2 linked regions of the Homo sapiens genome follow. The protein of the gene in region 1 interacts with the protein of each later gene in a pairwise test. Each region holds a gene or a part of one and is shown in the gene's direction. Other genes may lie near its edges.

Region 1 (4,035 bases):
GCCATTTAAATATAGTTGACCATTGAATAACATAGGAATTAGGATAACTGACTCTTGTGCAGTAAAAAAAATCCACATTTAACTTTTGACTCCGCCAAAACTTGATTAACAATAGCATGCTGTTCAGTGGAAGCCTTAACAGTAACATTAAACAGTTGATAAACACATATTTTGTATGTTACATGTATTATATGCTGTATTCTTAGAATAAGCTTGAGAAAAGGAAATTTTATTAAGAAAATCATAAGGGATTGGGTGCGGCGGATCACAAGGTCAGGAGTTCGAGACCAGCCTGGCCAACATGGTGAAACCCTGTCTCTACTAAAAATACAAAATTAGCCTGGCATGGTGGTGGGACCCTGTAATCCCTGCTGCTCGGGAGGCTGAGACAGGAGAATCACTTGAACCCAGGAGGCAGAGGTTGCAGTGAGCCGAGATCGCACCACTGCACTCCAGTCTGGGTGACAGAGCGAGACTCCATCTCAAAAAAAAACCAAAATCATAAGAGAATATATTTACTATTCATTAAGTGGAAATGGATCATCATAAAGGTGTTTATCCTCATCACATTTATCTTAACTAGGCGGAGGAGGAGGGAAGAGAAGGGGTTGGTCTTGCTGTCTCCAGGGTAGCATAGACAAAAGAAAATCCACGTATAAGTGGACCCACGCACTTCAAAGCCACGTTCAAGGATCAACTGTAGTGTCTCATACAGTGTTTAATTAAGCTTCATGCTTATTTTTTATTGAGTTGTCTACATTTTTCTTTTTACGTAATTCCCTATATAGGCTGGATATGATCTCTTTGCTATGTATTGCGAATATAATCTTCTAGAGAGTGACTTTACTTTTTCACTTCCTTAATGGTGTTTTTTGATAAACAGTGGTGATTAATTTTGATGCAGTCCGTTTTATGGACCTTTTTTCTTATTGTTCATTGTGCCCTGTTATAGGAACCTTCCCCTATCCCGAGGGCATAAAGATATTCTCATGTTTTTTTGAGATGGAGTTTCGCTTTTGTTGCCCAGGCTTGAGTGCGGTGGTGCGACCTCGGCTCACTGCAACCTCCGCCTCCCTGGTTCAAGGGATTGTCCTACCTCAGCCTCACGAGTAGCTGGGATTACAGGTGTGTGCCACCACATCCGGCTAATTTTTGCATTTTTAGTAGAGACGGGGGCTTCACCATCCATGTTGGTCAGGTTGGTCTCAAACTTCTGACCTCAGGTGATCTGCCCGCCTCGGCCTCCCAAAGTGCTGGGATTTACAGGCGTGGGCCACCATGCCTGGCCTGTTTCTGGAAACTTTAAAACGATAATCTACCTGGGATTGATTTGTTTGTATATGTCTCTTGCTGTGTAATTGGATAAGGCTTATTTTCATTCGTGGCATATAGATAACCAATTGACCTAGCTTCATGTATTGAAAAGAACTTTTTTCCTAACTTTGTCATAAAACAAGTGTCTATATATAAAAGTGTGTGTATGTCTTCGCTATTCATGCTTGTTTTGCATTTCCATGGAAAGTTTATAATCAAGCTTGTTACCCCAAAAAATCAAAAAATCCACTGGGATTGTATTGACTCTTAATTACTTTTTCTTTCTTTCTTTTTTTTTTTTTTTTTTTTTGAGACAAGAGCTCATTCTGCTGCCCAGGCTGGAGTGCAAATGGTGCAATCTCAGCTCACTGCAACCTCCACCTCCCAGGCTCAAGTAATCCTCCCACCTCAGCCTTCCAAGTAGCTGGGACAACAGGTGTGCACACCTGGCTAATTTTTTTTTTGTATTTTTGGTAGAGACAGGATTTCACCATGTTGTTCAGGCTGGTCTTGAACTTCTGACCTCAAGCAGTCGCCCAGCTCAGCCTCCCAAAGTGCTGGGATTACAGGCAAGAGCCACTGCGCTTGACCTAAATTTTGAGATTATTGGCATCTTTAATGCTGTCTTCAAATATTTGAACATGGCATATCTTTACACTCAGCTGTTTGTTAGAGATGTGACACATCCTTCATTTTCTAAGTATTTTTTTAATGGTATTTTAAAAGATTACTGCTGATAATATTCTTGCATTTTGACCTTATTTTTGGGCATTGTAATAAACAGTAAAACAAAAAGATCTCTACATAGTTTTGGATTTTCTGTATAACATCTGATACTCAGTTTTGTGTTTTCCTCTCTGCTTATACTCCTAATATTTTTTTCTTTATACCAGCTAGGATCTCCAGTAAAATGATTAATGGAGGGATAGTGGCATCTTCCATGTTACTATTTAATTGTTTTAGCTACCATTTATCAAAAGAAGTTTCCATCTTTATAATTTTTTAAATATGTAGGTATTTGGGGTTTTTTTTTGTTTTTTGTTTTTTGTTTTGAGACGGGCTCTCGCTCTGTCGCCAGGCTGGAGTGTAGTGGCGCAATCTCAGCTCATTGCAACCTCCACCTCCTGGGTTCAAGTGATTCTCCTGCCTCAGCCTCCTGAGTAGCTGGGACTACAGGTGCCCGCCACCACACCCAGCTAATTTTTTTTTTTTTTTTTTTTTGTATATTTAGTAGAGGCCGGGGTTTCACCGTGTTGGCCAGGATGGTCTCCATCTCCTGACCTCGTGATACCCCTGCCTCAGCCTCCCAAAGTGCTGCGATTACAGGATTACAGGTGTGAGGCACTGTGCCCGGCAGTATTTGATTTTGTCAGAAATTCTTATCTTAGATTTTTGAAATGATCTCATGATTTTTTTTTTTTTTTTTGAAACGGAGTCTAGCTCTGTCACCCAGGCTGGAGTGCAGTGGCGCCATCTGGGCTCACTGCAAGCTCCGCCTACCGGGTTCTCACCATTCTCCTGCCTCAGCCTTCTGAGTAGCTGGGACTACAGGCACCTGCCACCACACCTGGCTAATTTTTTGTATTTTTAGTAGAGACGGGGTTTCACTGTGTTAGCCAGGATGGTCTCGATCTCCTGACCTCATGATCCGCCCACCTTGGCCTCCCAAAATGCTGGGATTACAGGCGTGAGCCACTGCACCTGGCCCCACAGTACTTCTGACACCAGATGTGTGGGAATTTTTTCCCAACTGACCAATTCTCTCCACATACCAACTGGGTGGCTTGTGATTTGATTCAGTTCTGACACTGTCTACCTGATGTTACCATCAGAACCCACAAGTTAAAGGGCTCAGTCCTACAAGACTGCCCCCACTTGAAGCTAGTCACAAGTCCAGGTTTGTACTTCTGACCAACTGGCTATAAAGCAAACAAGGTATGCTTTCTCTGAGGTCACTACCTTCCCAGCACTTCAGTGTGTTCTGTTCACCAGCCCAGAAGCTCGGCTCATCACATCTCAATGTTCAAGAGTTTTGTTTTTTAAAAAAAACAGCCTTACTCTGTCACCCAGGCTGGAGTGGAGTGGTGCCACCATGGCTCACTGCAGCCTCAACCCCCAGGCTCAGATGATCCTCCCTACACTGCCTTCTGTTTTCTGAGTAGGTGGCTGGGACTACGGGCATGCACCACCATGACGGGGTAATTTTTTTTTTTTTTTAATTTTCAGTAGAGACAGGGTTTCACTATGTTTCCCAGGCTGGTCTTGAACTCCTGGGCTCAAGAGATCTTCCTGCCTCAGCCTCACAGACTGCTGGGATTACAGGCATGAGCCACCACACCCAGCCAAGACTTTTTATAGAGTCCAATCTCCAGCTCCCCCCACCACTTTATGGAGGTCAGTGGTTAGAACTAAAAGTTCCAACCGTCTAATACTTGGTTTTCCTGGTGACCACCAGCTGTATCCTGATGGTATCTAGGGGCCCCCACTTTAAGTCACCTTAGTAGCATAGACTCAGGTATGTGCATACAGAGTTCATTATGAATAACAAAAGATATTTATGAATTAGTGTTTGCTTATGCCAGAAATTTTCTTTTCCTTTTTTTTTTTTTTTTTTTTGAAACAGAGTCTTCACTCTGTCACCCAGACTAGAGTGCAGTGGTGTGATCTTGGCTTACTGTATCCTCCACCTCCCAGGTTCAAGTGATTCTTGTGCATCAGCCT
Region 2 (3,500 bases), on another chromosome or scaffold:
CGCCTAGTCACAGCAGGTGGACCTCGTGCTCATCAGAGCATGCCAATCCTAAGCCATTGGACATATGTAGACTGGTTTTTGTTGTTGCTATGTACATATAAATATATATATAAAATGAACATAGTTCATGCTTTCAGATAAAATGAGTAGATGTATATTTAGATTAATTTTTTTAGTCAGAACTTCATGAAATCCACACCAAAGGAAAGGTAAACTGAAATTTCCCTTGGACATATGTGAAATCTTTTTGTCTTTATAGTGAAACAAAGCCAGAGCATCTTTGTATATTGCAATATACTTGAAAAAAATGAATGTATTTTTTTCTCCAAAGAACAGCATGTTTCACTCAATGGTGAAAAGGTGGAAACATTTATGTAACTTTATGTGTATCTGTCTTGATATCTACTGACATTGTCTATATGAGGAAAATGATTACTGGTCATGCTCCTGTGAGTTTTTTGGGAAGGTAGGGTCATTTCTCCCTGCCTGCTTTGTGCCAACTAGCATGTTGCATCTACATGCATTATGAGTCTGGTTAGGCATTACTTTAAACATACATAAAGAGACAGTAGGACATTGTGGCTGAGTCTACCCAGCTCAAGGTAAAGGAGAATGTTGCTAATTTTTTAGCAAACTAGACCAGCATTATTACTCAAACTAAAAATATCACACCTGAAAAATTTAATTTAGGACCTAAAATGTCTAGATTAGCTTTCTGCTTTTTTTATTTGAATAACTCATTCAGTTGTGAATGAATTCCTCTTTATTTGGTGCCACAGTCACCAAATGACAAGGATTTGCCACTTTCCCACCAAATTGTGAGTGCTTGTAATTTAGGTCTCTCTACCTTAAATTCAGTATAAGGAAACGTAATTATGATTGATTTTTTCCAAAGATGACAAGCTGTGTTGAAATACATTTTTTCTTTTGACCAATTGACAGAATCTAATAAGCTTTAATAATCTTCCCCTTTTATGTGAAAAGTTTTGAGAACTGTGAAATGTTTAGGAACAAACTGTTGAAATCCATTGGAAGGGAAAAAAGAAAGTGGTACCAGTGTTACCAGCTCAACTAAAACCTGCAATTCTGCATTTCAACTCTTCACTTCCTCAGCCTACAAATAGCTCATTAGATGACATTCACGCATGCTGGGTATAGGCAAGGAAAGTAATTTTCAAAGTACATTTGCAGTTCTCTTTTTCAGAGATGATTCTATGATAGTGCCTCTGAAAGTTGATGCAGCATTTTTGCCTTTCCAAAAAGTATTTATCCTCACTGCTTTTTGCAGTACTTGTATTTTCACAGATGGATTATCTGGGGTAATTTTCTTCAAAGGGAGTTTGTTATACACAGTGAAAATGTATTATAGAGTAGAATAGTAAAGCTCTAGGGGTTTCAGAAAGCTTTGATGAACAGATGACAAACATCTGAAACCCCCTCCGCACTGTTACCCAGTGTGTATATAATGACTTGTTATAGCTCAGTGTGCCCTTGAATCCATACAGTTTCTTAAAAGACAATAAAATCTTATTAATAAAGTTAATGTAACTTCTAAGTTCTAGAAAATGCTGATTCTGTCTGCCCCATTCAATTGGGGGCTACTAATTGATTTGTTGCTTGGATTTCCTGAGAATTTCTCTATTTGTAGGAGGGGTTTTTTCTTTTTACGGTCTGTTGATGACAATTACTTTATGGGTGTGATGCACCGATGGTAGCCAAGGAATCTGTTGGGGAAGTTCGGAAAGAAACCTTTTCTTTCTTTTATTCAGTTTAAAGTAAACTTTATCCTGGATGTTTAGAATCAACATTAAGAGTTATATTATGGTGTTCAGAGATTAAGCTGACTTGGATACAATATTTTCTTTTGAAAATGAATTTTCTTTTTCATTTGTGATTTTTAAAAAATGTTGCACCAGTTATGCTTCATGCATCGTTACATCTTCATCAGGTTAATGTAATGTCTAGTTCCTTTGCAATAAATATATTGCTGCAGCTTTCTTGACGTATACTGTTACTTTTCGGGAGAGAAGCAGCTCTTGGTTAGAGTCTTTTACTGCAGGGGTCCCTGGGTACCTGTCTGTGGCCTGTTATGAACCAGGCTGCACAGCAGTGGTGGGCATGCGAGCAAGCATGACTGCCTGAGCTCTGACTCCTGTCAGATCAGCCACGGCATTAGATTCTCATAGGAGCGCAAACCCTATTGTGAACTGTGCATGCAGGAGATCTATGTTTTGTGTTCCTTAAGAGAATCGAATGCCTGATGATCTGTCACTGTCTCCCATCATCCCCAGATGGGATCGTCTAGTTGCAGGAAAACAGTCAGGGTTCCCACTAATTCTACATTATGGTGAGTATATAATAATAATATGGTGAGGATATAATAATAATAATAGAAATAAAGTGCACAATAAATGTGCTTGAATCATTGAATCATCCTGAAACCATCCCCTGCCACCAGTCTGTGGAAAGATTGTCTTCCATGAAACCAGTCCCTGGTGTCAAGAAGGTTGAAGACCGCTGCTTTACAAGATCTGCATGGTGAAACCCCATCTCTAGGGAAAATACAAAAATTAGCCAGGCGTGGTGGTGTGCATCTGTAATCTCAGCTACTCAGGAGAGTAGGAGAGGCATATATTGCTACTTATAGGAGGCTGGAGAATAGTTTGAACCTGGGAGGCGGAGCTTGCAGTGAGCTTGCAGTGAGCCATCATGCCACTGCACTCTAGCCTGGGCCACAGAGTGAGACTTTGACAAAAAAAAAGAAAAACAAACAACCAAACAAAAAAGATCTGCATGGTTTGGATTGTACCTACTTAAAATTGCTACACAAATAATTCTTCCTAATAGAGTCAGACAACAAAGATAATTTAGGAGACATTTATGTAAGTACATTGTTACCATTTTTCAACTTACTTTCTCAATGGAGACTTTTGAAAGAAAAATATAAGCAACCACATTGACAGATTTGCATTCTACCCTTTTATTTTCCAGGCCCCCTCATAGATAGCAAGGGAGAGAGAGCCACAAGAAAATACAAAATTTTCCAACTGGACGCAGATAATTAAGAATTAAGGACATTTACTGATGGATGTGATATGAATGTTTTTATATAAAATATGCATCTCTTGGAGTATTCTCATGTATATTTGTAATCCAATAAAAATACACTGTATCTTCTTGCTAACTTTAGGACTAACACTTTTAACTATTTTTTGCTTAATGTAGTAGTTAAGCATTTTGAGAAGGAGGCACTGTAGGCTTAATAGTACAGTCTCTTAATATCCATGTTGACTTTTACCCATTTTGTCACTATTTCACCAATTATTTTTTCACAGTACCAGATTAGGAGTAAGAAATCTACCATCTGATGGCATGAAGTATTTAGTCCTTCTACCATGATGTGACACTCTCATTATATTACTCATTAGCTGTGATATAATGAGAAAAGCACGGGATTTAGGGTGAGAAGTTTTATATCTGTGTCTTGGTTCCACCACTTT

Evidence for each region.
Region 2: the proteins of RESF1 (region 1) and TBC1D4 interact in a two-hybrid assay, tested with the Homo sapiens proteins (one large-scale study listed by IntAct).

What each region holds. Positions count from the first base shown.
Region 1 is NC_000012.12:31,976,199-31,980,233, forward strand, and holds part of RESF1 (retroelement silencing factor 1), read left to right. Parts: intron 1-4,035. UniProt on the Homo sapiens protein: Plays a role in the regulation of imprinted gene expression, regulates repressive epigenetic modifications associated with SETDB1.
Region 2 is NC_000013.11:75,283,170-75,286,669, reverse strand, and holds the end of TBC1D4 (TBC1 domain family member 4), read left to right. Parts: 3' UTR 1-3,167; downstream 3,168-3,500.